Linked DNA regions of Homo sapiens: regions 1 and 2 are each linked to region 3. The links come from fine-mapping of genetic effects on gene expression. A gene starts in region 3. Each other region holds a variant in brackets. All regions are shown on one strand. Distances are between the middles of the regions.

The links. PIP is the estimated chance that this variant, and not a neighbour inherited with it, causes the effect.
Region 1: its variant is fine-mapped to the expression of CLPB in whole blood (INTERVAL, PIP 0.95).
Region 2: its variant is fine-mapped to the expression of CLPB in whole blood (TOPMed, PIP 0.96).

Annotation. Positions count from the first base shown.
Region 1 is chr11:72,237,141-72,247,818 of GRCh38, forward strand. PHOX2A (paired like homeobox 2A) reads right to left here and starts at 7,036. Exons shown (of 3, transcript NM_005169.4): 1 at 6,648-7,036; 2 at 3,962-4,149; 3 at 1,937-3,058. The coding sequence starts at 6,864. The coding sequence ends at 2,609. INPPL1 (inositol polyphosphate phosphatase like 1) reads left to right here. Exons shown (of 28, transcript NM_001567.4): 26 at 1-656; 27 at 902-1,035; 28 at 1,123-2,007. The coding sequence ends at 1,213. RefSeq lists a silencer at 2,739-2,908. The variant AT/A (reference allele first, on the strand shown) is at 5,683.
Region 2 is chr11:72,281,147-72,291,824 of GRCh38, forward strand. It overlaps CLPB (ClpB family mitochondrial disaggregase), which reads right to left. Exons shown (of 16, transcript NM_001258392.3): 16 at 4,349-10,678. Among named protein-coding and RNA genes, the nearest start is that of PHOX2A, 42 kb to the left of the region's middle. The variant G/A (reference allele first, on the strand shown) is at 8,495.
Region 3 is chr11:72,431,650-72,442,327 of GRCh38, forward strand. It overlaps CLPB (ClpB family mitochondrial disaggregase), which reads right to left and starts at 2,882. Exons shown (of 16, transcript NM_001258392.3): 1 at 2,423-2,882. The coding sequence starts at 2,825. RefSeq lists enhancers at 2,504-2,963, 3,027-3,833 and a silencer at 5,245-5,294.

The DNA of each region.
Region 1 (10,678 bases), 190 kb before region 3:
CTCCTGAACCAGAAGGGGTGGCGGCCCCCCCACCCAAGAACAGCTTCAATAACCCTGCCTACTACGTCCTTGAAGGGGTCCCGCACCAGCTGCTGCCCCCGGAGCCACCCTCGCCTGCCAGGGCCCCTGTCCCATCTGCCACCAAGAACAAAGTGGCCATTACAGTGCCTGCTCCACAGCTTGGGCACCACCGGCACCCTCGTGTGGGAGAGGGGAGTTCTTCAGATGAGGAGTCTGGAGGCACACTGCCCCCTCCAGACTTTCCACCTCCACCACTGCCGGACTCAGCCATCTTCCTGCCCCCCAGCCTGGATCCTTTACCAGGGCCAGTGGTCCGGGGCCGTGGTGGGGCTGAGGCCCGTGGCCCACCACCTCCCAAGGCCCATCCAAGGCCTCCACTGCCCCCAGGCCCCTCACCAGCCAGCACTTTCCTGGGGGAAGTGGCCAGTGGGGATGACCGGTCCTGCTCGGTGCTGCAGATGGCCAAGACGCTGAGCGAGGTGGACTATGCCCCTGCTGGGCCTGCACGCTCAGCGCTCCTCCCAGGCCCCCTGGAGCTGCAGCCCCCCCGGGGACTGCCCTCGGACTATGGCCGGCCCCTCAGCTTCCCTCCACCCCGCATCCGGGAGAGCATCCAGGAAGACCTGGCAGAGGAGGTGTGTGGAGCAGGGTGGCTGTCTGTGTGTGCCTGAGTGTGCTTGCCCACAGACTGGTACCCTTTCACTCCACCATTCAGCACTCATGGTGTCCCTGCTACCCTGAACTGATCACTGGGAAGTTGGGAGACACATGTATCAGCCCAGCCCTTCCCTTCCTTTTCCCCAGAGCATGCAGCAGAATGTGACTGCAGGTGTTTCTATGGGGGGCACTCAGCTCCCCCTGACATGCCCTGTTTCCTTAGGCTCCGTGCCTGCAGGGCGGGCGGGCCAGCGGGCTGGGCGAGGCAGGCATGAGTGCCTGGCTGCGGGCCATCGGCTTGGAGCGCTATGAGGAGGGCCTGGTGCATAATGGCTGGGACGACCTGGAGTTTCTCAGGTGGGGGAGGGGCTGGCCCCGGGGGCGGAGCTGGGGCCCTCAGGATCCCCTTGCCCATCTCACTTCCCAGCCTGTTTTACTCCACAGTGACATCACCGAGGAGGACTTGGAGGAGGCTGGGGTGCAGGACCCGGCTCACAAGCGCCTCCTTCTGGACACCCTGCAGCTCAGCAAGTGATAGCGGAGGCACCACGAAGCTGTGAACTCAGAGCCCCTCCCTGCTACCAAGGCCCAGCTATGGCCCCAGGGTTGAAAAGTTATGAGGGTCAGGGCAGTATCTCTCTGCCTATTTATTGGGGTGCCTATTTATTGGGGATCTGCATTCCCCGCTGCCCAATCATTTGCAATGCCCTAATTAGGGCATCCTGCCCCTCGCCTTTTAGGCTCAGGACGGAAGGTCAGTTGCCATGGTTACCGAGGACCCTGGTTACTCTGGTGCTGTCCTGTTTTACTGGACCCCGCCTCCCAGCCCCAGGGGTGCCTGTGGGGGTCCATTTGGGTACGTCTGGGCCCCCACTTTCACCAGTTTCTGCGGCCTTCCACCGGGCCTGAACCACAGCGGAGGAGCTCCGCTAAGACCTCCCCACCCCCGCTGGGGGTGGGGGCGGGTGTCCGTCCGGAAATGAAGGAATAGCCCGAGGACCGGGCTGGGGTTTATTTAAACTGTTCTGTGTGGGTCTGGGGAGGGAGAGCACCTTAATATTATTGGGGTTGGTTGGGGTGGGGCAGGATCTCAGCCATAAAGTGCCAGTTTGCTTAGTTCTCACTGTCTCCTGGTCTGTGCTGCCCTGCTCTGGGGATGCACGGCGGCAGGGTGGGGGAGGGAGGTTCCTCGCAGGTCTCAGCCCGGGACAGGGTCTTGCAAGCAGCCTCCTGGGCAGTCGTAAGGGTTGCGGCGTGATGTCTTCAATAAATTAAGTTTTATTTGGATTGAGTAAAACTTCAATAAATTACAAGTTTTTCAAAGAAAAAGGACAACCAAAAAAATTAGGGAAAGAGAATCCCTCTGTCCCATTCCCCAGGCAGCCCCTCCACTCCTCTAACAGGTCCACCCTCTGTGCCAGACGGGCTAGGGAAGAGAGGAGACACGTGAGGGATGAATTGGCGGTGGTCATTAATTATCCCGGCGACCACCAGCCTCTGTACGGGTGGGCCCGAGGGGTGGGGCAGCGGGCTTTCCTGATCACCAGCGTAAGGGGTGACCCAGCCGCTGCAGAGCCAGGGAAGGGGGCTGTGCCGATCCTCCTTGAGGACCTTCACTTTGAGGGCACTGTTAGGGACAGGCCTCATGTGATACCGCATCCAAAGAAGGCCAAGCTAGAAGGAGCTCCGGGGTTCTCCTGGAGGAGGTCCCGGTATAAAGAACTCCGCTCTGCTGGTAGAGGGTGGGTGAGGACGAGAGTGGCCCTGACTTGGTCTCCAAAGTTGGGGAGGACACACCGAGGGGTGAGACAGTAGGGAGTGGAGACGGATGGGGACTTCCAGGCGGGTGGCCAGGATGGGAGGGGCTGTCAGGTCCTGGAGGGGCAGGGACGTCTCTGGGGGCAGGCTCGGAGCCTCCAGAGGCCGGCAGCTAGAAGAGATTGGTCTTCAGGGCGGGGCCGGGCTTCCGGTGAAAGGAGGACAGAACCCCGGAGAAGGGCCCGGGGCCGGACTCCGCCGGCTGCCAAGCCTTAAGTAGTTCGGCCGCTCCCGCGCCAGGCCCGCCGCCCCCACCGCCCGCCACACCGGCCCACAGTGCGCCCTTGAGCGGCTGTGGCCCCGGCCCAGGTCCCGGCCCGGAGCCCAGTGCGACGGGCAGCGGGCTGGGGCTCAGGCGCGGGCTGGCCAGGCCGGGCGCAGGCGGCGGCGGCAGCGAGGCGGTGCTATCGGGCGTGGGGCTGCACGTGGACTCCTTGGAATCGTCGTCCTCGGAGGAGCAGCGCGCCTCGCCCTTTTTGGCGCCCGCCGCGCCCGCCGCGCCCTTGGCGCTGGCCGCGCGCTCCTGTTTGCGGAACTTGGCCCGGCGGTTCTGGAACCAGACCTGCGGGCACAGGGGCCAGTCAGCCTGGACGAGGGTCGGAGAACGCACGGGGTCAGCCCGCGGCCGCAAGGCTCGAGTGAGATCCTGGTTCGGAAAGAACCGGGCCCGGGTTCTTACTAGTTGGAGGGGCCTTCGGCCCTCCGCACGCAGCCCGCTGCACTCCGCGCTCCACTGGCCCCTGCCTCCAGATCCCTGGGTTCTTGCCCTTGGGATCCACTCACCCGCTGACTCTGCTGCCTCCCAGCACTCTTGGTCTCCCGGAGGGGACCCTGCCTTCGTTCTCCTCACTCTAAGTTCTTCCCCCAATTCCTTCTTTTAGGAAGCTCTGGGACTTCCCTCCTGGAGTGTTCCAGGGCCGTGGAGAGCAGTTTAGGGCGCCAGTAAACCTTTTGTCTAGGGCATCCAGTCAAGGCGGGCCAACTGAACATCTGTACACGGAGTTGTACAAATAGACAACAGTCTGCTCTAGCCCGGCTCTCTTCGGCCCTGTGCCTGCCACAAACTCAGCCTCCCGGGCTCCGGGTTTTCAAAGCTGCAGCGCCGGGGTAGGGAACCCCAGGGGTGCTGACTGGCCTGCCCCCTCTCCTCCTCAGCTCGGCCCTGAGGTCCCCTGGGTCTCCCCCTCTAGCCCCTCGGCCTCCCTCCTGGCTTCTCAAGCATCACTCGGAACTTTCTGCCCTAAGAGGGAGACAGAGCGGAGGTAGCCTGGAGCTAAACAGATCGGGTCTCCCAAGGGCCTCCAAGTCCGGGCCCTGCTGCCTCCCGTAGCTGCCCAAGCACCCTGGGACCGCGCCCTGCCTTCGGGCTGCATCTGCCTGTATTCCCCTACCCCCAGGTGTTAGACATTAAGCTCCCACACCTCCTTCCATGCGCACTCTCGTACACACACGTGCATACACGCACCTGCACGCGAGCCTCAGTGAGGTCGATCTTGAGCGCCAGCTCCTCACGCGTGTAAATGTCGGGGTAGTGGGTCTCAGCGAAAACGCGCTCCAGCTCCTTGAGCTGCGCGCTGGTGAACGTGGTGCGGATGCGCCGCTGCTTGCGCTTCTCGTGCAGGCCGGATGGCTCTGGGAAGAACTTGTAGGGCACTGCGGGTGTGTGCAGGGGGGCCGGGGGGGGGGCAAAAAGGATGGGGGAGTGAGAAGCAGAGTTCAACCCGTTGTGTCCAGCTCCGGGGGAATCACACGCCTCCCCCGTCCCTGGCCTGATCCCTCGTCTTGGTCCCGGCAGCCTGGGGCCGAGCGTCCTCCCTATTACTCAATGGAGCCGGCGGGATAAAGGCGGAGGGAGATCAGGGAGACCTGAGCCCCAAGAGCGGCCAAGGGGAAAGCATAATCCAATACTCCAGCCAAGACACTCCCTCCCCCACCCCACCCCCGTCGTCGCCCTCCTCCCAAGCCCTGTTCCCTCCATCTCCCCCTGCACCCCCATTCAACCGTGCCTCCGACCCTTCCCTCCTGTCTGTCTCTCAGCCCGTCTGTCCCCTCTGTCTACCCTGGCCCTGGATGTCTGTCAGGTCTCATCAGCATTGCCAGTCTTCCCACTAACCAGTTCTGGGCCAAGGCTCTGCAACAGAGACCCTCCCACCGGCCCTCCTTTCAGCCCTACCACCAGCCTTCCCACCGGCTCTCAGCTGTATACAGATTTGGCTCCCTCCACCCATCCACCTCTCCCCTTCCCAAGCCTCATTTCTTCAATTCTGCCCCACTCCCCTGACCCCCATTCTCCCCTAGATGTCCCCCTCTCCTCTTCCTAATCTTCCTCCATTTGAATCTCTCTTCAACTTTCCATTTCTCAGCCACTCTTCTCTTTGTGCCCATTGAGAAGACTTCCTCCATCTTCTCTTTGCGCCCATTGAGAAGACTTCCTCCATCTTCTCTTTGCCCTCCTTCTTCCTCCCCAGGCACCTTCTCCATGTCCCATCTCCTCCAAAGCCAACACTGCCCCCCAACTCTCTTCCTATACCCATCCCAGTCTCCACTGCCCCATAGGTAGTGTTTCTGACAGTACTTCCCTTCCCTGTCTGTAACCCTGGTTTAAGTCTTCATATTCACCAGGGGTCTCCAATCTCATCTTTGTCCCATCCAGGCCTCCATCTCCCCTGATTCTTGTCTCCAGCACCCCATTTGTATTCTTATCTTCGTCATCTCTATTTCTAATCTTCTTTGGTCCCCATCGCCTGATACTTATCTCTATCTCCCCAACCCTGAGTCCCCATTTCTCCTAGGATTTCCAGTGCTTCCATCTCTGCTCCCATCTCTCTGTACCTTATCCCCATCTCTCTGGTCTCAAAACCCTGTATCTCTGGAGGCTGTCTCCCCTCTTCCCAATCCCTACCCTCATCTGGCTCAGGGTACCCAATCTCCCCACCCTGGGCCTCATTTCTCCAAATCCAGGTTCTCATTTCTCGTATCTCTTCCCCAAACCCCAGCCTAGGGCCCAGTCTTCTTCTTCTTCTTCTTCTTTTTTTTTTGAGACCGAGTCTCATTCTGTCACCCAGGCTGGAATGCAATGGCACAGTCTCAGCTCACTGCAACCTCTGCCTCCCAGGTTCAAGCGATTCTCCTGCCTCAGACTCCCAAGTAGCTGGGATTACAGGCGTGGGCCACCATGCCCAGCTA[AT/A]TTTTTTTTTTTTTTGTATTTTTAATGGAGATGGGGTTTCACCATGTTGGTTAGGCTGGTCTTGAACTCTTGACCTCAAGTGATCCACCCGCCTTGGCCTCCCAAAGTGCTGGGATTACAGGCATGAGCCACCGCGCCTGGCCCTTAGGCCCCAGTCTTCTACTTGGGTCCCCGGCAGTCTTCCCAGGAGGGAAGGCGATAAGATTACATAGGGCAGGCTGGGACTCTAATCAGAGGGCTGAGATGACTGAGAAGCTCAGTGAGGTTGAGGGTTTGGACAGGGACTTGGATCTAAAGTCTTGGGGATGCAGGAGCTGCTTCCGGGTTCTACAGAACTCTAGCTGGGAGAGTCTGGGGGAATGGGGAAATACAAGTGGCTTAAAAACCCGGGCCCCTTTATTGCGGGCTACGGGATCTGGTTTTGGTGGCTACAGAAGGGTTCGGTCCCAGGCAGCGTGGGTCCAAGACAGGGCAGGAGGGGCCTGATGGCCACGCGAGCTCTAGGAAGCTTCCCGTCTGGGCAGCTCAGCTGCCTGGAGAGGTCCTTGCTGGGGGTCATGCATCTCGTGGGGCAGCGGTGATGGGGTGGGGTGATAAGTGGTGATAGGGCTGGGCTGGGAGCCTTTTTCAAAGATCCAGCGCTTGTAGAGGTTTAGTGGTCAGTCTTTGCAGGTGGTGAGGGGAAGGCCTGGTAAGGGGCCCAGAGCTGGATGGGGATATATTTCCTTGACCTGAAGGGCACGAGACAGAGATTTGGCAACGAGAAAAAGGAACAGGAGAGATGAGAGGGTGAGGCTCATTCCTGCGGAGGAGAACCTCGTATTCTGGGGGTCTCTCGGGGCATTGGAGGGTCTGGCCAAGGCAGGAATGGGGGCGGCTGAGGGGGACAGTCGCATTCACTTGGCGAGCGGGCCCAGGGATTCTGCAGGAATTGGAGGGAGGGTTGGGCCGGGGCTGCGCTCACCTGCCGAGTAGGGCGCGGGCTGGTGGTCGCGTAGGGCGCCAAGTGCGCAGTTGGAGGAGCCGAGCGCGGGGCAGGGCGGCCCTGCCGCGGGGAAAGCGGGCCGCAGGGGGCTGTATTGGAAGCCGCCGGGCTGGCTGCAGGCGCCAAAGTCGCCGTAGGCGGACGCCTCCATGGCCGCCACGCACGAGTCGTACGAATTGAGGTAGGAGTAGTCCATCGGCCCGGGGGGCGGGGGCGGGGGCCGGGCCAGGCCGGGTCGGGGTCGGGGTCCGGGTGGAGGTCGGAAGGGAGGTTCGAGCGCCAGGCTCCGAGGACCCGAGGCCAGCTCTGAGCGCCCGAGAGTCCGCCCGCCCCGTCGCGGCCGCACTCAGCCCGGGTGCAACGCAAGTGCAGCCAGCCCGGCCCGCGCGCCTTTTAACGCGCAGGACCCCGCGGAGGGGGGCGGGGCGGGGCGAGCTCCGAAGGGGCGGGGCCTAGGAGGCCCAGACACCGCCCAAAGCCGCCCCGACCCCCACCCCGAAGGGTCCCCGCCGCCGTCTTAGGGCTCAGAGGTGTGGAGCTGGGATGCGCGGGACCCTATCCCCGGAGTCCCTATCCTGCCCCAATCCGGACCAGACCTTCGGTCTCTACACAGCGTCCGAGGCCAGAGGGTCCCGACCCTTTTCCCGGGCCTCCCCACCTGCGGCCCCGCGGAAGGGAGGGGAGGCAGGCCTGGCGGCGCTCGTGTGAAGAAGTTAATTCAATTCGCTCTGATAACCGAGTTATTCCGATCTGGCCCCTCAGCCCCGCCCCCAGCGAGGTCCCATCCCGGCGGAGACTGCGGAGGCGGCCCAGGAAGGGGGATGGAGACCGGGAAGAGACGGAGCCTGGGATGGGGACAGGGAAGGGACGTGGATAGACAGAGGAAACAGAGACCGGGAGAGAAAGGGGCAGAAACAGTGATGGAGACAGGGACAAGAGATACAGGTACACAGAGGGAGACAAGGACGGAACATACACAGCGAAAGACAGGATGGAGCGGGGACAGGGCAGAGACAGGAGATGAGGGTAAGAGAGAGACAGGATGGAGCGGGGACAGGGCAGAGACAGGAGATGAGGTTAAGAGAGAGACAAGAGGAGACAGGGAGACAGGGGGACGAGAAAGAGAGTGAGGGAGGCATGGAGACAGAAGGGGTCGGGATGAGACATGGACGGCAACCAGGACTGCGGTGGAGAGCAAGGGAGGGATGAGACAAAACAGAGGCAGGAATCGTGAGACAGACACATATGCCCAGGGACAGTCTGAGAGAGACAGGGCCAGGGACAGCCACAAGCGCGGGAGCAGAGGCTGAGAGCGGAGAGAAAACGCCTCCGGGGAGCTTAGACACGAGGGCTGGAGCGCAGAGGGGCCCAGGGATGATGCTGGAGGCTCTGGGGTGCGGCCTCCACGGGGCTGCGGAGAGGGAGGGTCGTGGGAGCCAGGTCCCTCTACCCTGACTTGTCCCGAGGCCCACACGACCTTGCACCTTCAGGGCCCGCCTGCCTCTCCCCCCGTTCCCTCAGCTCCATCTGCAGTATGCGACCCTCTCCTGTGACCTTGGGCTCAGGATGCGATGGATGTCAGAAAGGGAACGTACCCCGTGACCTCTTTATTGTTCTTCAGTCTCTTACCCCTGTTCTCCAGGGCCCCCCGCTTTTTTTCTCCAGGGAAACCACCTAGACTCAGTCTGCACCTGGCCCAGACATCCCTGCACAGATTCAGTCACCAGCTCCCTCGTGCTGTGGGACAGCGGGACACATTCAGAATCCTTACCAAGAGAAGGGAACAGATAACTTTTCCGTCGCTCCTGAGCTGGGTTGGGCAGCTCGTCCACTCAACCCCCAGCCTCTTCCACCGATCTTGGCAGGTCTTGTAGATGGGGAGTCCTAGACCCATGGAGAAGCCGCGGGAAGGGCGTGTCTTTGTTTCCAGCTGAAGTCCTTGGGGGTTGATAGAAGGACTCCTGGAATTCTCCCCAAGTTTGTCAGGACAGAGGGGAGTGCGCCTCTCCTCAGGTAATCCTTCCCCCATCATCCGTTCTGGGCTTCCCAGGAGGACTCTCTATCCCCAATCTCCGGAACCACTCCATGCCAGGGGATTTCTTTGAGGTTTCTCAAATTACCTCTTGTCAAATGTTTTTATTGTGGCAAAATACACATAACATAAAATTTACCATCTTAGCCACTTTGAGCTATAGTTCTGTGGTAGTAAATACATTCATATTTATGTATTAATACATCCATCTCCATAACTCTTTGAATCCTGTAAAATCAAAACTCTACCCGTTAAACAACACCTTCCATTTCCCCATCCTACCTGCAAACCGCCATTCCTCTTTCTGTCCCTATGATTTTGTGTTTTTTTTTTTCAGACAGTCTTTCACTCTGTCACTCAGGCTGGAGTACAGCAACGAGATCATGGTGCAGTCTTGCATTCCTTGGCTCAGGCGATCCTCCCGCCTCAGCGTCCTGAGTAGCTGGGACTACACGTGCACACCACCATGCCTAGCTAATTTTTAAATCTTCTGTAGAGATGGGGGTCTCACTATGTTGCCCAGGCTGGTCTCTGTTATTTTGACCAGGGACCTCGTATAAGTGGAATCATACAGTATTTGTCTGTTTACTTACTTATTTTTGAGATACTCTTACTCTGTCACCCAGGCTGCAGTGCAGAGGTGGGATCATAGCTCACTGCTGCCTCAACCTTCTGGGCTCAAGCGATCCTCCCACCTCAGCCTCCCAGAGTATTGGAATTACAGGTGTGAGCCTCCACACTCAGCCCAGTATTTGTCTTTTTGGCATAACTCCTTTTATATATCCCATTTCCTTATCCATCCATCCATCCGTGGACATTCGGGTTGCTTCCACATTTTAGCTGTTGTGAATAATGCTGCTATGAACATGGGTGTACACATATCTGCCTAACATATTTGTATCTGCTTTCAATTCTTTTCAATATATACCCAGAAGTGGAATTCCTGGATCATACAGTAATTCTCTTTTTGTTTTTCAAGGAACTGCCACAATGTTTTCCACAGAGGCTTTTCCATTTTACATTCTCACCAGCAATGCATCCGTATTCCAATTTTGACACATCCTTGCCAACACTTGCTATTTTCTGTTTTTCTCAAATGACTTTTTAGGTCTAAACTTGTAGAGATTGAGACCTGACAGCTCAACTGCTTCAAAAAGTTATCCCTCCTGGTGTGTGAGGTGCACCTCTCCCCCTCAATATATACTCTACAGGGAGTCCAAGGGATCTCAGAATTGGGAAATCAGATGGGATCACTGCTCTCAGACCCTCCCATGGCTCTCCATTGCCCTCATGATCAAGTCCAAGCTCTTGCTGGCACGCCACGTCCTCAGTGCTAGCGCTCCAGCCTGCCTCCCCCTGTTCTTGGCTTTCTTTGCAGCCATCACACACTAATCTTTTGGTTCAGAGCTGTTCTCTCTGGCTGGAATGCCCATTTCATTCCCTGCCCTCCCACACAAAACAAACAAAACCGAACAAACCCAAGCCTGGTTGACTCCTGTTTATCCATTGGGTCTCAATTTGGATATCATTGCTTCCTGGAAGCCTTCCCTGATGCTGCTAGACTAGGTTGGGCATCCCTGCCATGTCCCATAGTAGTACTTCCTCTCTTTTGGTCACTCAAATGACCTTGCTGAAGTGTTTGCAATACAGTGCAAGGTCTTAGGGCAGAACTATGTCATCTTGTTTCTCACTCACTCCCCAGCCCTACCGTGGTGCCTAGCCCATCACTCTGCATGTCATAGGTCCTCTCTTATCTGTTTGTCAAATGAATGGATTAGGCTAATCTGAAATCTTCGTGTTGGAGAATCCTGCCCTTGCTTCCAGGGAAGAAATTCTCATCCCCTAACTCCACTCTGCACTCTCTGAAGAGGGATCATCCTGCCCTCTTCATTTCCTCTCTCTCCAGGGACAGGAAACTTCTTCCCTCACGAGTCAACCTCTGCCTGGAAGAAAGTCCTTCCTCATCTGAGGAATTTGC
Region 2 (10,678 bases), 150 kb before region 3:
TGGTTGAGGGATCATGAAAGATCAGGGCAATTCTGAGCCATGCCATTTCTACCATATGTCTGCTAGAAAGTGTTGTGGTTGATTGACCAAACCAGATCATAAGGGGAATTTTTTTTTAAAACAACAACAACAAACCACAAAGTTAATTTTTTGAATAAAATTTGTTGTGATAACAGTAATAAATAAATAGATTCTATTGAGGCATTTTGTGGCCTAACATATGGTCTATCCTGAAAAATGTCCTGTGTACACTTGAGAAGAATGTATATGCTGTTGTTGTTGAGCACAGTGTTCTGTATATGCTCATTATATCTCGTTGGTTTATTGTCGTGTTTAAATCCTTTATTTCCTTACTTCTTTCTGGTTCTTCTATCTAATACTGAGAGTAGGGTATTGAAGACTCCAACTATTATTGTAGAACTTTCTATTTCTCCCTTTAGTTCTGCCAGTTTTTGTTTCATGTATTTTGATGGTCTTTTTAGGTATATAAATTTTCATAATTGTTGTATCTTATTCCTGTATTAAACCTTGTATTTATAATATTCTTGGCTGGGCCCCATGGCTCATGCCTGTAATCCCAGCAGTGTAGGAGGCCAAGGAAAGAGGATAGCTGGAGCCCAGGAATTTGAGACCAGCCTGGGCAACATAGTGATACCTCATCTCTACAAATAATTAAAAATATTTGCTGAGCATGGTGGTACATGTTTGTGGTCCTAGCTACTTGGGAGGCTGAAGTGGGAGGATCGCTTAAGCCCAGGTGGTTGAGATGGCAGTGAGCTGTGATCATGCCACTGCACTCCAGCCTAGGCCACAGAGACCTCGTCTTAAAAAATAATAATATAATGTTCTTTTCTCTTGTAAATTTTTAAAAAATGTCTTTAAAAAATTGAAGTGTATAGTGTCTGATGTTGGTATAAGCATTCCTGCTCTCTTTTGGTTACTATTTGCGTGGAATATGTTTTTTCCATCCTTTCACTTTCAATCTATTTGTCTCTTTGGAGCTAAAGTGAGACTCTGGTAGACAGCATATTGTTGGATTATGTTATTAAAATCAATTCTGACAATCTTTGCCTTTTGATTGGAGAGTTTAACCCATTAACATTTAAAGTTGACTGCGAGTGGTGGTTCATGCCTGCAATCCCAACACTTTGGGAAGTTGAGGCAGGTGGATCACCTGAGGTCATGGGTTTGAGCCCAGCCTGGCCAACATGGTGAAACCCCATCTCTACTAAAAATACAAAAATTACTAACTCTGCATCTTCTCTAAGACATTATGATTACTTTCTAAATTTCCCAGTATATGCAATTGCTTTTGAATATCCTAGTCTTAAATGTCTGGCTACCAACAGGAAGTAAAAGAGAAAAATGAAGAGGGAGGGAAGGGTGCAAGCACATTAATCCTAGACAGCACTTCAGCCAGAGGGGCTTGCTACAATGGGAGGAGGTATAAGAATAATGGTCTCTGCCTCTTTTTATGCCTGTGATCAGAAGTAGCAATCAGAGCACAGATCCTAAGTATTTGAAAGACAGGGTCCTTTTGCCCCTCCTGGCTCCTGGAAGCTGCATTCCAGCTGTTCTAGGAACACGTGCACAGCTGCCTGCCATGGGGCTGGGAGGTGGGGGATGGGTAGTTGTTACTGTGCTAAGAGTTGAAATTGAACAAAATTAACCACAATTTATCATCTAAGCCTTCCCTGGGAAGTCGCAGAACTCCAATAGACTCCAGAGCTCCAAAATAGTTACATCAGACAAATTCTGCCACTGTAATTGTCTGGGTGGGGAGACAGATTCCTGATGCTTCCTACTCTGGCATCTTCCCAGAATCCTCTGGGTATTTACCTTTTAAAAAATTATTTTACTCTTTTTTTTTGTGTGTGTGGGGGGTGTCTAAGGTGGGGAGCATACTATATAGTGCTTAATCTGCCATACTTTTTTCTCTTTTTTCCTTCCTTTTCCTCGCTTTGCCCTAGTATTTTATGTAGATTGTGTTGGTTGACTTCTCAATTTTGCCCACAGGTTAAAATATATCTAAATAGGGTTATGATAGAACCAGAGGAAGAATGCTCATCACACAGAGATCCTTGATATGGAACAAGTTGTAGCAACTGATGAGACTTTGCTATGTTTATCTTTGTAAGAGTAAATTGCTCTGTGCAAGGGATAGGTGGCATTACGTAGCGTGAAGTTTTTTTTGAAAATACAGGTTTGGGAAGATCTATATTGTTGTTGGGTTAAGTCTGAAGATTCTGAGAATATTTGGAAGAGAGAGATTATAATGATGGGCCCTGAGATTTAAGTGGACTTGGAGAAAGAGGGATCAGATGGGCAATAAGAAGGTTGGGGTTAATGGACTAGAAGTATCAATAAGGTCACAGAATTACACACAGAATGTACTCCAGTTCATATAAGTGAACTGGAAGATGAAAGATAATTGGCTAGAGAGGGATAGGGGCTTCGGAGGAAGTTTAATTACTTGTGATGAAATTTAGACTGTGACCATAACATAGGTGATTTAGGTGGGCAGGGGCAGAAAAAAGACCACTAAATGTGAGGAGAGCAGGGCTTTAGGTCATTCATGGAAGGTTGAAGCCACCAAGAATGATGGCATGTGCTGGGGAAGAGAGAAAGTGACACAGGTACTAAAATCTTCCCTGTGACACAGTGATTGGGAGATCAGTAGGCAGGACAATTAGAGAAAGGCTGGTATAGTCGAACTGATGAATTCAAAAGAGCTGAGAGGAAGGATGAGAACTAATTGAGGAGGAGCAGTGGAGGCTCACTTCTGGGTCTAACAATGAAAGCAGCCTCTGCCTAAGAGGGCTACAGGTAAGCAGTCTTAGGGGACAGCCAGAGTAAGCTGTGTCTTTAGGGGACAGTTAAGATGAAGAAGTGAAGCAAATATTCCAAATACAAGGTGCATATAGAAAAGAATCTACCGATTTTAGAAAGGAAGTGCTGGAGGACACAGTGGAAAGGCTGGAGAGGGAAGCAGTATGTGATGATGTGGTGGTAGATGACCACTGAGGTTAGGGTCAGACTTCTTGGGATTACTATAACGAATCTGTGAGGGATGGTATTAGACTTGAAGACTCTTAAGAGGATGGTGGGCTAATGGTTTCAGGATTGTGGTTGAGGCTATATTCCTTATCTCTGCAACTGATCATGACTCTGGAGGGTCACACTGGTGACTGCCCTCCCTGACCATTCCATATTCCCCTTGTCCTGTGTCACTGCCTTAGACCACTATGGTTTGTTGTCCAGTGGATGACCCAAATCTTCCTCCTTTAAGAATATGAGTCCTTATTACTCCTAGTATCTAATATCTAAGTCAATTAGGACCACAACACTAGAAAAAATTGTAGAAATGCATAAAAGACGAAAATTAATCTGAGAAAATCACTCAGAATGAAGCCTCTTTTTCAAATATACCTACTATTTTTTCTTACTGCCCTTTCTTGCTTTATGTTTTTTAGTCTTCTCTCCATGTCTGAACATTTTAAGATTTTTTTTTTTTTTTTTGAGGCGGAGTCTCGTTCTGTCACCCAGGCTGGAGTGCAGTGGTGTGATCTCAGCTCACTGCAACCTCTGCCTCCTGGTTCAAGCAATTCTCCTGCCTCAGTCTCCCCAGTAGGTGGGATTATAGGCACATGCCACCACACCCAGCTAATTTTTGTATTTTTAGTAGAGATAAGGTTTCACCATGTTGGCCAGGCTGACTTGAACTCCTGACCTCAGGTGATCTGCCTGCCTTGGCCTCCCAAAGTGCTGGGATTACAGGCATGAGCCACTGTACATGGCTGGGATTTCCCATTCTTGGTTTCAAGTCTAGTTGTGTATTAAACTTTCTTGTCTTATTACATATATTAAATATTTCTGTTTGAGGTGGAAGAGAGTTTGCCTGAAATTACTCTCTGTTGTATATTGGTCAGAAGTCATCCCAAATCATTCTACACAATGCAAACAAAGGGTCTTTTAAAACACAAATCTGGTCATTTCATTCCCTTAGCATGGCATTCAGGGCACTTTGAAATCAGGAAACTTGCCTCTCTAGCTTCATTTTCCACCAATTTCCTCTCTTCTCCACACTCATACACAGCTACTATACTCCAGCCACAGACAGTAACCCTTCTCTTTCCTTTCTCTCATAATTGTATTTAGGGTGTGTGTTAATAATAAATTTACATTTTCCCTAATTTTTGCATACTGTCAAGATGGGATTGCAAAAGTAGTAATGACTATTTCCTGAGAGGCTAGACCCAGAAAACAGTAGCTCCATGTAGCATCGCCTCTGGACATAGTAGTGCAGTATGACCTTAACATTATTTAATTAAAAGTGCTGTCAATTAGATTTGTATTAAATTATTTATTAGGTTTACATTAAGTTATATATTAAGAAATGTATATTTTAGTATTAAATCATCCTTTCTAAAACTTGATGTTTTTTCACTTGTCAGGTCTTATTTTTATGCCCTTCAATATGGTTTTCTTGTTAAATTTATTAAGTATAATTTTGAACAGGTAATACATTAATATGGTTCAAAGCTTACTAAAAAGTATTTAAAATAACATAGCAGTGTTCCCCTTCCATTGCTGTCCCTGAATTGCCCAGTTCTGCTCCCTTCCAGAAATAGGTTATGTGTAGAAGAGCAAATATATATATACCTATTTGTTGCAATTGTAAATGGAATGTTTTTCTTTTGATACTGTTTCTAGTTGATTATTGCTAGAATACAGAAAAAACAATTGATTTTTGTACAGTTATCTTTTATTCAGACACTTATCCATGCTAATAGGCTTCTACTATAGCCTTTTTTTTTTTTTTGGAGATAGGCTGGAGTGCAGTGGCACGATCTCATCTCACAGCAACCTCCACCTCCTGAGCTCCAGTTATATTCCCACCTCAGCCTCCCAAGTAGCTGAGACCACAGGTGGATGCCACCACAACCAGCTAATTTTTTGCAGAGATGGGGTTTCACCATGTTGCTCAGGCTGGTCTTGAACTCCTGGGCTCAAGCAGTCCACCTGCCTTGACCCCTCAGTGTTCTGTTGAGATTACAGGTGTGAGATACTGCACCTGTTTTTTTTTTTTTTTTTTTTTTTAAGAGATAGGGTGTCACTCTGCCACCCAGCCTGGAGTGCAGTGGCATGATCATAGCTCACTGTAACCTCATACTCCTAGACTCAAGGAATCTTCCACCTCAGCCTCGAGTAGCTGGGTATACAGGCATGCACTACCATGCCTGGCCTGAAATAACTTTATACTTAAAAGTTGCAAAAACAATACAAAGAATTCATGTACATCATTCCCTCAGATTTCCCAAATGTTAACATCTTTTTTTTGTTTGTTTTTGAGACAGTCTCACTCTGTCATCCAGGCTGGAGTGCAGTGGTGTGATGTAGGCTCACTACAACCTCTGCCTCCAGGTTCAAGGGATTCCTGTGCCTCAGCCTCCCAAATAGCTGGAATTACCGGCATGTGCCACTATGTCCGGCTAATTTTTGTACTTTAATAAAGAGGGGTTTCACCATGTTGTCCAGGCTGGTCTCGAACTCCAGACCTAGGTGATCCACCTGCCTGGGCCTCCCAAAGTGTTGGAATTACAGGTGTGAGCCACCATGCCTTGCCAACACCTTACTTTTTGCTTTATCATTCCGTGTGTGTGTGTGTGTGTGTGTGTGTGTGTGTAGTTATCTGAAATACTGGCAAACCAAATTAGAGGTTTACCTTTAACCTCTAAATACTTACATTTTCTGAAAACAAGGACGTTCTCTTCTGTAATCATAGTATAATTATCAAAATGAGAAAATTTAACAACACTAGCACTCTCTAGACATTTAAATAACATTTAAGTTCTTGATGTAATAAATTAATAAATTTCCTGACACTGAGCCTTGCATTGCTAAAATAAACCTTATGTAATCAGAGTGTGCAATTCAACTTGATTTTATTTGGGATTTTTGCATCTATGGCCATAGGTGAGATTAGGCTATAGCATTCTTTCTGGCACTTTATCAGGTTTGAGTACAATAATAGTTAAAACTCATCTATTTTGGGGGTTGAGTGATGGCTATAGGAGTGTGTTTACTTTGTAATCATTCACTGAGCTGCATACTTGTGATTTGTACAATTTCCCATATATTTTTCAATTAAAAAGTTTAATTAAAAACAATTTTTTATTTTTGGGACATGGTCTCGCTCTGTCACCCAGGCTGGAGTGCAGCAGCACAGTCTTGGCTCACTGCAACCTCTGCCTCCTGGGCTTAAACCATCTTCCCCACCTCAGCCTCCCAAGTAGCTGTTGACTACAGGCAAGCACCATCATGCCTGGCTAATTTTGGTATTTTTAGTAGAGGTGGGGTCTTGCCATGTTGCCCAGGCTGGTCTCAGACTCCGGGGCTCAAGTGATCTGCCTGCCTTGGCCTTCCAAAGTGCTAGGATTACAGGTGTGGGCCACCACCATGCCTGGCCATCAATCTTTTACAAGGATAAAATTTTATTTATTTTTCACCATCTTATGGTGCTCAAAAAGGATAAAATTTTAACCACCTTTCCAGTTTCTTCTTGGGTAACCAACTGGCCTATTCAAACTATTTCTAGGATCAGTGTTTGCTGGGAAATTATCCATTTCCTCTGATTTCAAATTTGTTGCCATAGAGTTCTATTCTTCTTCTCAATTCCTCAATATATATGGTTATGTCTAATTTCTCATGCCTAATTTTGTTAATTTTTTTGGCTCCTTTCCCCTTTTATCAGGCTCAGGAGGTTTTATCTATTTTATTGGTGCTTTCAAAGAATTTTTTAATTTATTCTTTTTCTTTTTCCTACCTTGTTAAGTTTAGCTTTTATCTTTATTGGTCCATTTTCTATTTTTTATGGTTTAAGTGTGTTTCTTTCCTAAATTTCTTTCTTGTTTTTCTTCTTTCACTATATTGAGGAATTTCCCTAAATTTTAAAATCACTACACACCTTTGAGTTTTTCTTTTTGAACAATAAACATGTTACACTTTCATTTCCAAGTCTGGTCTCATGTATTCTAGGATCCTCAATAAGGAATTTGGGGCCGGGTACAGTCGTTGACGCTTGTAATCTCAGCACTCTGGGAGGCCAAGGTGGGTGGATCACTTGAGACCAGGAGTTTGAGACTAGCCTGGCAAACATGGTGAAACCCCGTCTTTACTAAAAATACAAAAAAAATTAGCTGGGTATGGTGGCATATGCCTGTAGTCCCAGCTACTGAGGAGGCTGAGGCATGAGACCTGCTTGAACTGGAGGTGGAGGTTGCAGTGAGCCAAGATTGCACCACCGCACTCCAGCCTGGGCGACAGAGCAAGACTCTGTCTCAAAAAACAAAACAAAACAAAAGAAATCTGGGTCTCACCTTGCTGCATTGTCTCAGAGCTCAAATCCTGGCCACAGCAACATGGGACAAATAAAAATATGCTGAGCAAACAAACAATACTTTTCTGTTCCAGAGCCCACTGAGAAGATCTGCACTTGCTGCAGGTCCCATCCACTCACCCAAGTATAATAATAAAGGAACATCTGTCATATGCCTGCACTGTGCCAGGTTCTGTGAATGGCTGAACAGCTTGGCATCTGCCCTCTTAGAACTTACATTCTAGTGATGAAGACACAGAACAAGTAGGACAAGTGAGCTGAGCCTGGGATGCTATGGAAGTAAAAGATATGGGTCCAACACCACCTAGGAGTTCTGGCAGAGAATCTCTGGAAGAAGTAATTCTTTTTTTGTTTGTTTTTGTTGGAGACGGAGGCTGGCTCTGTCACCAGGCTGGAGTGCAGTGGCACAATTTCGGCTCACTGCAACCTCCACCTCCCGGGTTCAAGCGATTCTCCTGCCTCAGCCTCCCGAGTAGCTGAGACTACAGGCGCCCGCCACCACGCCTGGCTAATTTTTGTATTTTTAGTAGAGATGGGGTTTCACCATGTTGGTCAGGATGGTCTCAATCTCTTGATCTCGTGATCTGCCCCTACATGGCCTCCAGAGTGTTGGGATTACAGGCATGAGCCACCACGCCCGGCCAGAAGTGATTCTTAATTAGGTTCCTTAGAATCTAAGGTTCTACCCCTGTCTCCTTATCCTATTCTCAGGAAGGTGGCCATTGGCTTTTCTTGTATAAAAGTTATCTGATTTTAAGTTATATGCCTAGTATTCCTGGCCACAGTTAACTGAACCAACGGACTGACAGCCGGGCATAAGACCTCTATCTAGTAGGAATACTGCACACAGGCTGGTTACTAGCTGACTTAACTAGAGCCTCTATGGGAAGTCTAAACATCAAATAGAAAGGAGCAGAAACAGAGATAGCAGGAGAAAAAGCAGAAAAAGAATAGTAAGGTTATAAAAATGGCAGTCGCAAACCCTATGGTATTGAATTAAAACCGTATCTAAACTCATGATTTTTATTTATTTTTAAAAATATGAAACGGAGTCTTGCTCTGTCACTCAGGCTGCAGTGCAGTGGTACAATCACA[G/A]TTCACTACAGCCTCAACCTTCTGAACTCAAGCGATCCTCCTGCCTCAGCCTCCTACGTAGCTAGGATTACAGGAATGCACCACCATGCCTGGCTAATTTTTTATTTTTTAAACGTTTGGAGGATGAGGTCTTGCTATGATGCGCAGGCTGGTCTTGAACTCCTGGGCTCAAGTGATCCTCCCACTTTGGCCTCCCAAAGTCCTGGGATACAGGCACGAGCCACCATACCTGGCTCACGGTTTTTAATAACATACAGATGGATAGAATAATAAATTCAGGTGCTTGTATTTGCATGTTTTAACATATATACATATATGTTTTCTAGCTCTGTCTGCTGAGCAGGCCTACAAGCAATGACACTCCGCCAATGATACTCTAGCCAGGAGTATATATTCTGTCCAGATCTTGGTTTCCAGTGGCATCAAGAAACAACTTGGTTTCTAAGTTCCTTTTTTCTGGAATAAAAGGAACTGGGAGCTTCTTAGAGAATGACTGATGCCAGGGCTGAGATAGGGAAAATGTGAGGAAGCCTGAAACATCTTGTGGTGCCAGAAAATGCTTAAAAAGTGACAGGGGCAATGTCGAAACAACACAGTGCCAACTTCAATGAGTTCTCACTGGCCAAATCTGAGCCAATTTGAGCAACCAAATAAACTGTTAGCATTAGATTGTAGCCTGTAGAATAAAACAGATATCCACTCATTCATACTGATATAAATTATCAAATAAATAAATGGGGAAAAGGGACAGCTCTTCCTTATAGTAGAATACCAATTAATAAATACAGGTAAAATAATGAAACAAAGTCACCATTAGGCAAGCATAACATTAATACCTGTTATAAGCAAGAATCATTGATGATGGAAATGAAAATCAGTAGGCAAAATTTTAAGAATAAGACATTCACATAGCTTCAAAGTGGAAGATTCTTGTTAATTTCAAAGGGAAAATTCCTAATTTTACAGTGGAGAAACCTGGCACACACCACCTTAGCCATGTGATCAAAGTTACCACCACCTAGTCTAGGTGTGGTGGCTCATGCCTGTAATCTCAGCACTTTGGGAGGCCGAGGTGGGTGGATCACCTGAGGTCAGGAGTTCAAGACCAGCCTGGCCAACATGGCGAAAACCTGTCTCTACTAAAAATACAAAAATTAGCTGGGTGTGGTGGTGGGCACCTGCAATCCCAGCTACTCAGGAGGCTGAGGCAGGAGAATCACTTTGAACCCAGGAGGCAGAGGTTGCAGTGAGCCGAGATTGCGCCACTGCACTCCATCCTGGGTGACAGAGCGGGACTCCGTCTCAAAAAAAAAAAAAAAACCAAAACAAAAAGTTACCACCACCCTCCGCTAGGAGGCACTAAGAATAGCACAGTATCACTTCTGTGGTTGTCTTGGCAAAAATGCAGATCCTCAATCATATCATGTAAAAACATTAAACAAACTAAAACTGGGGAATATTCTATAAAATAACTGGCCTGGACTCTTCCAAAGTGTCAAGGTCATGAAAGATAAAGACCAAGAAACTGTCACAGGCTGACAGAGATGAAGGAAACACCACAACAAAATGCAATATGGGACCCTGGACCAGACAAAGGACATCATCGGGAAAACTGGCAAAATTTGAATGTCCGTAGATTAGTTAGTAGTAGTTTATCAATGTTAACTTCCTGGTTTTCTTTTTTTGAGACGGAGTCTCACTCTGTCGCCCAGGCTGGAGTGCAGTGGCGTGATTTCAGCTCACTGCAACCTCCGCCTCCTGGGCTCAAGTGATTCTCCTGCCTCAGCCTCCCAAGTAGCTGGGATTACAGGTGGGCACCAGCGGGCCTGGCTAATTTTTGTATTTTTAGTACAGACAGGGTTTCACCATGTTGGCCAGGCTGGTCTCGAACTCCTGACCTCAGGTAATCTGCCTGCCTCAGCCTCCCAAAGTGCTGGAATTACAGGCATGAGCCACCACACCCGGCAATTTCCTGGTTTTGATAAACTACAGTATGGCTTTGTAGGATGTAATCATTGGGAGATGCTAGATGAAAGATACATGGGAATTTTCTACTATTTCTGCAACTTTCTCTAAGTCTAAAATTATTTCAAAACAAAAAGTAAAAAACAATGAAAAGCAGGCCGGGTCCAGTGGCTCATGCCTGTAATCCCAGCACTTTGGGAGGCCGAGGCAGGCAGATCA
Region 3 (10,678 bases):
CCAGCTGGGAGGGGATCAAGCCTTCCTTAGAGATGGCTATATCCACTCTCCCTTCACTCTGCAGAAAAAAATGTGGCTTCTACAAGGTTACAGAGTGAGGAATGAGCTAAGAACCAGGGCCTCCTGGCTTCTAAAAGGGTTCAGTTTCTACCACACTGCACTGAGGGTCAAAACTCTAAGTCAGGGGACAGGGTAGCTGGCAAGTCAGTTCCAGCAGGAACTGGTCACGGCTTTGACCATTATCTATTTTGGTAAATAGACCCTGGTATTCTTGCTGGAGTTCATAGGCCATAAAGTCCAGTTGGGAACCCCCAGGAACTTCTTAGGCAAGACCTCACCAAATACACTGGACTCAGAACATTCCCTGCTCATGAACCTTCCATAACTCTCCACTGCCTACAGAAGAAATTCCAACACCCTCACCTACCCCACCCCTGACTGGCATCCAGGCCCCACTCCATCTGCTCTCATCTAATTCCAAAGACCTTATCCTCCAACCAAGCTGGCTGCTCTGCTGGCCCCTGCACACACCATGGTGCCCCGAAACTGTTATTTCCATTCCCTGAAGCCTTTGCATGGAATATAATCCAACTCTCACACATTTACTGAGCACCTACTAAGTTCCAGACACTGTGGTGGGCAAATGATGTCTAGGTATTCGGGAAAGTTGCTAGTATAACCTGAAAAAACAAAAGAGAAGATACATTTCCTGCTCTCATGGGGCTCAAAAGATCACTCCCCTTTCCGTTTCTACTTCATCCTTCAGAACTCAAGTTCAAATTTCCCATCCTCTGGGGTCTCCAATACTCCAGAAAGGCTTTCCTGACCCTACTGGCCCTCTGATCCCCCAACGACACATAGCACCACTCACCAGCCCTACATTCCAACTGCCTGCACTGTCCCCTTGACTGATTTTGTGTTAAGTTAGGACTTCCCACACACCTAGCCTAAAACTAGACACACAGTGGGTACCCCCAAAAATGCTGGAAGTTATAGGATTACAACATGCCTAAGCTCGATGCCCTTAGTGTCTATTTCAAAACCCTCATTTTGTAGATGAGGAAACAGAGGACCCGTGAGGAGAAGCAAAAGTCCAAATTCACAATGAGAGTTAGACACAGAACCAAAACAAGATCCCCAGTGTTGTCTCTCCCAGACCAAAGTCCTTCCTTTACAATTGGCCACATCAAACGAATCAAAGTCAAGGCACTCCCTACTCCCCAACTCTTGCTCCAAATTCTCAGAGCTTGGGGTGCATGGAATCTATGGACACCATGCCTCAGTCTTTCTTCTTGAGGAACAACTAAGAACCTGAATGGCTGGACTCACATAGGTCATCAGTCTGGCTCTCTGTCCACTCTCTCAGCTGCTGCTTAGCTCCCCGGATCCAAATGAGATGCTAATCGGGATCAGCCAGTCCCCCAGCAGTTGCCCTTGGGCCTCCAGGAATCCACCTTCCTTCTCCTGCCAACTATCCCACATGGCAAGATCACCTCACAGCATGTGAGACCAGACACAGCAAAATCCTGAGACTGACAGACTCAGGCCGCTGAACTCCAAAAAGAGTCAAAATAACAGTACTGTAAAAATGTTGGGAAACTATCCTTCACTATATAAATAAAGAAATTGGTCAGACGCGGTGGCTCACGCCTGTAATCCCAGTACTTTGGGAGGCCAAGGCGGGTGGATCAGGAGGTCAAGAGATCGAGACCATCCTGACCAACAACTAAAAATACAAAAATTAGCTGGGTGTGGTGGCCCGCACCTGTAGTCCCAGCTACTTGGGAGGCTAAGGCAGGAGAATAGCTTGAACCCGGGAGGCGGAGGTTGCAGTGGGCCGAGATTGCGCCACTGCACTCCAGCTTGGCGACAGAGCAAGACTCCATCTCAGAAATAAATAAATAAATAAATAAATAAATAAATAAATAAATAAATAAATAAATTGAGGTCAAGCTGGCATTAGAACCGAGTCAGGTTGTTCCTGACTCTGGCACCTTTGGTGGCGGGGGGTAGGGGGGAGCGGTTTGGCAACTTCTCTAAACCATCTGGCGGTTGCCCTTAAAACACCCCATAATTTCCGTTTCCTGGAGATCTCAGGAAAGAGGAATTGGACCAGGCAGAATATGAGAAACATAAGGGGACCATGCTATAATATTAGATGTTTAGTCCAATATCCCCATTGTACAGATGGATAAAATGATGCCCAGAGAGGGGAAGCGGATCTATGGTACGAGATTATACAACTCCGAGGTGATGAGGTCTCTAGGGCAACACCCTGCCCCTGTAACCAGATGATGTCTGAGTCCCTCCAAGACTTAGGCTCTAAGGATCTAAACCTATAAGTACCTCCCACCCTCCTAAGATACGAAGTTAGGACAATCTTCCCGCCTCTCCCTTCCTCAAACCCAGATCTCATAATCACCCTTGTTGGACGGACTCTTGCTGTAGCAATGAACCACCAGCGCTGCGGCCAGGGCGCACATGCCCAGTCCGGCCCTGCTGGGGACCCCGTTCCAGCTGTCCTGTCCTGGGAGTGTTTCTTCGGGACCAGGAAGGCGTCCCCAAGTGGCAGCCGCGAGGCATTTGGTATCGAAGCGTCCTCCCTGGCGCCCCCCGGTGGCTGCCCCACGTCCGGAGAACAAGGCCGGCGATGTTCCAGGGCGCCCCCCGGTGGCTACCCTCAGCCACTGCGGCTCCCCGAGACTCCCAGTAGTCACATTCCGGCCGGAAGCACCTCCATGGCCCCGGAGCGTTGGGGACCTGAGCAGCCGGAGGAGTAGCCGTGGCGCCAGTGCTTTTCTCCTCAACACCAGGGACCCCAGCATCTTGACAGCTGCTTCGATAACCCCGTGGTGCCGGCCCCTGTGCTGACCACGTCCAACATGGCTGCCGCGGCGCGTTCGAAGACGCCGCGAACAGGGTGGAGTTGCGCACTACCTCACGGGAGAGGTAGTCCACAGCCCTAAGCCTTTCCCCAGCTGGAGAATAAATAAACTACGTTTCCCAGAAGGCTGTGGGATTGCGTCACAATGACTGCGGGATTATAGAAGCCCGGGGCATATTGGGAAATAGAGTTCGGGTGAAGGGGCGTGGCGATTAGAGTTAAAGATTAGAATCCCAAGACTTCTTTCCTAGTTTAGTTGAAGCACACGACACACTTTTTTTTTTTTTTTTTTTTTGAGACGGAGTCTCGCTCTGTCTCACAGGCCGGAGTGCCGTGGCGCGATCTCGGCTCACTGCAACCTTCGTCTCCTGTGTTCAAGCAATTCTCCTACCTCAGTCTCCCGAGTAGCTGGGATTACAGGCGCCCGCCACCATGCCCAGCTAATTTTTGTATTTTTAGTGGAAACGGGGTTTCACCACGTTGGCCAGGCTGGTCTCTAACTCCTGACCTCAGGCGATCCGCCCGCCTCGGCCTCCCAAAATGCTGGGGTTACAAGCGTGAGCCACCGCGCCCGGCCCACAATTTTTGACTGGTGTAAATTACCCAAGAATCTTCAGCAGAGGCATATTATGAAACTTATGCTTATTTAGTTTAGCCTATCTCTTTTTTCAGCCTGGGCGGCCTTTCAAAAAGATGTTTAGGGTAACTACTGCACCTGAGATAGGAATACATTTTATTTGAAGAGTTGACTTCCGGTCTTTTTTTTTTTTTTTTTTTTGAGACAGAATCTCACTCTGCCGCCCAAACTGGAGTGCAGTGGCGCCATCTCGGCTCACTGCAACCTCCGTCTCCCTGGTCCAAGCGATTCTCCCACCTCAGCCTACCGAGTAGCTGGGATTACAGGCACGCACCACCACGCTTGGCTAATTTTTGTATTTTTAGTAGTAGAGACGGGGTTTCACCATGTTGGCCAGGCTGGTCTCCAACTCCTGACCTCAAGCGACCCACCTGCCTCAGCCTCCCTAAGTACTGGGATTACTGGCGTGAGCCACTGCGCCTGGCCCTGATTGTGTTATTTTTAAAGGGCTTTCAAGTGGGTCATCTCATCTGATCCTCATGGCAGCTGTGTGTGAGAAGCTGGGCAAGAACTGTTATTCCCGTCTACAGTGAAGGGAATTGAGGCTCAAAGGTGAAAAGATTTGCCAGTAAATCACCTGGAGTAAAGTAATGCTCAGGTCTTCTGATTTTGAGCATATAGTTTCCATTAACACCTGCACTCCCATCCCGCCCCCTCTTTTCCAAACTGAACCCATAGGTAGGCAAAGGAGGAAGTTCTTCTTTGTGCCAGTTCTGTTTCTTCCAAGTCTTGTACGTCTGCTCAGACTTCACATGATCAGAGTCTTCCCTGACCATTCTGGTTAAAATAGTAATCCTACGCACCCCATCCTAATTTTCCTTCACAGCATTTATCACCATCTGACATACTACATTTTTATTGTCTTTCTCCACTACAGCATGAGCCCCATGAGACAAGGACTTTGTTTTTTCACTTTTATATCACTAGCACTCAGAACAATGTCTGGAACAAAAGAGGCACTCAGTTTTTTTATTTTTATGTATTTATTTATTTATTGAAGCAGAGTCTTGCTCTGTCGCCCAGGCTGCAGTGCAGTGGCACGATCTCAGCTCACTGCAAGCTCAGCCTCCTGTGTTCACGCCATTCTTCTGCCTCAGCCTCCCGAGTAGCTGGGACTACAGGCTCCCGCCACCATGCTCGGCTAATTTTTTTGTATTTTTAGTAGAGACGGGGTTTCACTGTATTAGTCAGGATGGTCTCGATCTCCTGACCTCGTGATCCACCTGCCTCGGCCTCCTAAAGTGCTGGGATTACAGGTGTGAGCCACCGCGCCCGGCCTGAGGCACTCAAATATTTTTTTCAGTGAATGGATTACTCTCACCTTATTAGTGTTGGAGAGTACTTGAGCTTTGGCATTCAGGCAGACGTGGATTTTAATTTTGACTCTTGCATTTATATGGGTGACCTTGGACAAACTCCCTTTACCTCTCTGGTAGTTAATTACTCATTGTTGAAGATATCAATTCCTGCCTTCAAGATGATTGCTTGTATTAAATAAGATAATATGTAGAAAGCCCCTAACACTGTCCCTGGCTCACAGTAGGTCTTCAAGAAATGGTAGCTATCATTGTATATTCTCTGCTCTGTGTATTCTACACTTCCTCCAGGCAAAGATGGAACTTCTCATTTCCACATCCGTTAGTAAGACAGGAATGAATGAGCGACTTTTTTGGTTTTTTTTGAGACAGGGTCACGCTCTGTTACACAGGCTGGAGTACAGTTGTTACTGCAACCTGAAACCTCCTGGGCTCAAGGGATCATCCCACCACCTCAGCCTCCTGAGTAGCTGGGACCACAGCTGGCACCACTACACCTAGCTAATTTTTTGTTATTATTATTATTATTATTATTTGGGTAGAGACTAGGTCTCGCTATGATGCCCAAGCTGGTCTGAACTCCTGGGCTCAAGCAGTCCTCCTGCCTCAGCCTCCTAAAGTGCTGGGATTACAGGCGTGAGCCACTGCGCCTGGCTTTAATAACTTTTTTTTTTTTTTGAGATGGAGTTTTGCTCTTGTTGCCCAGGCTGGAGTGCAATGGCGCGATCTTGACTCACCGCAACCTCCGCCTCCCAGGTTCAAGCGCTTTTCTTGCCTCAGCCTCCCGAGTAGCTAGGATTACAGGCATGTGTCACCACACCTGGCTAATTTTTTTTGTATTTTTAGTAGAGACGGGGTTTTACATGTTGGTCAGGCTGGTCTCAAACTCCCAACCTCAGATGATCCACCTGCCTTGGCCTCCCAGAGTGCTGGGATTACAGGCGTGAGCCACCGTGCCCAGCCTTGAATAACTATTTTTAAATCATTTTTAAAGCACTCAATAATGAAAGCATTTTGACCTTTCTGTTTTGAGAGATTTTCAGCACATATTATTTTGTTAACCACCCCATTCACTATAGCAACTTCACCTTCCCTGTATTCTTGAAACATTTCTGTCTCCCAACTTAGGGTGGTCACAGCAGGAAGAGCAGTCTCCGAAAGCTCCCATTACCAGATGCAGAGTTCAAACCCTCTCACTGCAGACACATCCCAGGGCCCTTCAGTTTACTTAGCAATGCATAATTTTCAAAGCACTTCCCCATTGATTTTCTTATTTTATTTTCACAGATACCATCTGCGAGGGGTTCAAGGAAGGGTTTAATTACTATCAGTATTTGGTAGGGATACTGAAAAGCTTAAATTATCAATCTCTGAGTGGGGGATGTAGTGAGGAAGTATGGAAACACCCATTAGGGTCGTGTGTGCTTGCTCACGTGCCTGTAATCCCAACACTTGGGGCAGGAGTTTGAGACCAGCCTGGGCAACATGGTGAGATCACAGTCTCTGCAAAAAATAAAAAATTAGCCAGGCATGGGGGTGTACACCTGTAGTTCTAGCTACTCAGGAGGCTGTGGCAGGAGGATCCCCACACTACTGCACTTCAGTCTAGGCAACAGAGTGAGACCCTGTCTCCAAAAAAAAGAAAAATAAACTAAAATTAAAACAAACAAAAAAACCCCACCCATTAGAATCAGCTGGGACTCAGAGTGAATTCTGTATGGTCAATAACCAATCCAGGGCCAGGCACAGTGGCTAATGCCTATAATCCCAGCACTTTGGGAGGCCGAGTTGGAAGGATCATTTGAGGTCAGGAGTTCGAGACCAGCCTGGCTAACATGGTGAAACCCCGTCTCTACTAAAGATCCAAAAAATTAGCTGGGCGTGGTGGCACACGCCTGTAATCCCAGCTACTCAGGAGGCTGAGGCAGGAGAATTACTTGAACCCAGGAGGCGGAGGTTGCAGTGAGCCAAGATCGCGCCATTGCACTCCAGCCTGGGCGACGGGGCGACTCCGTCTCAAAAAACAAACAAACACACAAAAAACTCTTAGGTCACATTTTAACAGATTTTCAACGCAGGATGGCTTCCTTTTGGTCTGCTCAGAAAGCAAAAATTTATATCAGGTTCCAATGACCCCACCTTGGCCCTAAGCTTCTAACTGTTGGGTTGGGAGAGAGAGAACTCCAGTTTTAGTTTGTAGGAAGGTGACTGGGGGATATCTGAATGGGGTTTAGGAGGAGACAGAAAGTGAAGAATCAATGCAGTTGCTGTGGTCAGCTGCCTCTGGCATGGAGTTGGAGGCCATTTGGTGCTACACATTCTATAGGTTTCTGAGAAAAACTTTTCCAGAAAAAGAAAACAAAACAACAACACACACACACATTTTTAAACAAATAAGTAAATAGATAGTAGCTGGGCTTTTCACTGTTGGAGAAAGAAGTTATAAATAGGGAAAAAAAGAAAGCTAAAATGAACCTTGTGGTATTGAATTGGAATCAGATGTATCAGCATAAACTCATGGCTTTAATTTTATTTTTACTTTATTTATTTTTGAGACGGAGTCTTGCTCTGTCATCCAGGCTGGAATGCAGTGGCGCGATCTTGGTCACTGCAGCCTCCGTCTCCCAGGTTCAAGTGATTCTCCTGCCTCAGCCTCCTGAGTAGCTGGGATTACAGCAATGTACCACCGCCCAGCTAACTTTTGTATTTTTAGTAGAGACAGGGTTTCGCCATGTTGGCCAGACTGGTCTCGAACCAGCCTGATTGGTCTCAATTGGTTATTGACCATATGGTTTTGCCACGTTGGCCAGGCTGGTCACAAACTCCTGACCTCAAATGATCTGCCTGTCTCAGCCTCCCAAAGTGCTAGGATTACAGGTTAGAGCCACCATGCCCAGCTGTAAAACTCATGGTTTTTAAAAATAGATACAGACAGATCAATACAGAAATATAAATATGTAAGTATGTATGGGTTCGTGTATTACATATATTACCTAGCCTCTGGGAGGGTCTAGAAGCAATTACACCCTAAAAATTGAACACACCTAACACCCAGACATAAACAGCATTCTCCAATAACCCAGAAACCAGTTACCCTTGGAGAATGGTTGTTTTCAGGACTGGGCAGAGAAAATCCAAAATGAGTCAACAACATCGTATGTGCCAGGAAGTTAGGAAAGGCTCAAAACCAGATGCAGGCTTGTGAAAAGAACACAGGAGCCAGTGTGAAGGAGTTCATAATGACCTAAGTAGGAACAATTTAACTGAAAAGTAATGACCATATGGGGTTTTGATCCACAGAGTAAAACAAATATGATATAAATAATCAAATAAATAAATAGATAAATAGGGGAGGAATGAGGGAAGAGGCAGCTTTCTTTCTTTCTTTTTTTTTGAGACGGAGTCTCGCTCTGTTGCCCAGGCTGGAGTGCAGTGGCGCGATCTCGGCTCACTGAAAGCTCTGCCTCCCGGGTTCACACCATTCTCCTGCCTCAGCCTCCAGCTGGGACTACAGGCGCCCGCCACCATGCCCGGCTAATTTTTTTTTTTGTTGTATTTTTAGTAGAGACGGGGTTTCACTGTGTTAGCCAGGATGGTCTCGATCTCCTGACCTTGTCATCTGCCCGCCTCGGCCTCCCAAAGTGCTGGGATTATAGGCGTGAACCACCACGCCTGGCCCGAGGCAGCTCTTTCTTACAGTGGAAGTTCAATCAATAAATGTAGAAGAAAGAGAGAAATAGAGAATTACCACTAGGCAGACACTGGAGTAATACAAATTTCAGGCTGGGCACAGTGACTCATGTAGTGACTAATGCCTGTAATCCCAGCACTTTGTGAGGCCAAGGCAGTAGGAGGATCACTCGAGGCCAGGAGTTTGAGACCAGCCTGGGCGACAAAGTGAGACCCTGTCTATACAAAAATATAAAATAAAAAAATTAGCAGAGCAGGGTGGCACACACCTGTTGTCCCAGCTACTTGGGAGGCCGAGGCGGAAGGATTGCTTGAGGCGAGGAGGTCAAGGCTGCAGCAAGCCTTCATCGCACCACAGTGCTCCAGCCTGGGTGACAGAGCAAGACCCTGTCTCTAAAAACATAAATAAAAATAAACATTTCAGGCAAGATCCATAGATGATACTAAAATTAGTGGGTGACAAGGAGGAGAAACAGAATTTATATAGTCTCAAAAGTACTTCCTGCAGCCGGGCACGGTGGCTCACGCCTGTAATCCCAGCACTTTGGGAGGCTGAGGCAGGTGGATCACAAGGTCAGGAGTTCAAGACCAGCCTGGCCAAGATGGTAAAACCCTGTCTCTACTAAAAATACAAAAATTAGCCAGGCGTGCTGGCAGGCGCCTGTAATCCCAGCTACTCGGAAGGCTGAGGCAGGAGAATCACTTGAACCCGGGGGGTGGAGGTTGCAGTGAGCCGAGATTGCGCCACTGCACTCCAGCCTGGGCAACAGAGTGAGACTTCCTCTCAAAAAAAAAAGTACTTCCTGCAAGATAATTATGAACTACAAAAACTTTACAGTGGGGAAAACCTGGCAGACACCAATTTAACTACATGATCAAAGGTAAATATCACCAGTAATAAGACATATACACAACAGACAAAATGAATCCCTTGATATGATGCACTGGGAAGAACACATCGTTTTTGTTCATTCTCATCAAGCATATATAACCTCATTCCAAACATGAGAAAACATCAGACAAACACATATTGAGGGATATTCTACAGATAACTGATTTATATTATTATTTGTATTAGTTTTCTATTGCTGCAAAACAAAGCACCATAAACTGAGCAGCTTAAAACAATTGCCATCTAATATCTCACAGTTTCTATGGGTCTGGAGTCTAGCATATTCTAACTATGCTCTGCTCTGGGTCTGAAATCAAGGTGTCGGCCAGCTGCATTCACATCTGGAGGCTCAATTAGGGAAAGGTAGTTTTTCTTTTTGTTTTTTGAGATGGAGTTTCACTCTTGTTGTCCAGGCTGGAGTGCAGTGGTGCAATCTGAGCTCACTGCAACCTCCACCTCCCAGGTTCAAATGATTCTGCTACCTCAGCTTCCCAAGTAGCTGGGATTACAGGTGCACGCCACCACACCCAGCTAATGTTTTTGTATTTTTAGTAGAGACAGGGTTTCACCATGTTGGACAGGTTGGTCTCGAACTTCTGACCTCAGGTGATCCACCCATCTTGGCCTCCCACAGTGCTGGGATTACAGGCATAAGCCACCATGCCCACCAGGCAAAGGTAGTTTTTCAAGCTGCCTTACACTGTTGGTTGAAATCATTTCCTAGCAGCTGTGGGACTGAGGCTGTATTGCTAGCCAGCAGCAGCTGAGAACCTCTCAGCTCCTGGAAAAAACTCTTGGGTCTTTGCCATGTAACCACTTCCTTAGATTCTCTCATACTTGCAAGCAAGCTTCTCTGACTTCAGGAAGGGCCTGGTTATTTTAAAGGGCTCACCTGATTAGATCAGGCCCACCCAGATAATCTCTCTTTTGATAAGTCAAAGTGAACCGATAAGTAATGTTATCACAGGAGTGATATCCCATCACATTCACAGGTTCTGCCTGTACTCAAGAGTGTATACAAGGTATGTACATTCAGCGGTGGAAACCTTAGGGATCATCTTAGAATTCTGCCTGTCACAGTACTCTGCAAAAGTGTCAAGGTCACGAAAGATAAGGAAAGACTGAGAAGCTGTTACAGACTGGGGATTGAGAAGAAATAAATACTAAATGCACTGTGTAATCATGGATAGGACCAGGGAACAGAAAAGGGACATTAGTGGGAAAATTGATGAATTTCAAATAAATTCTAAGGTTTAGTT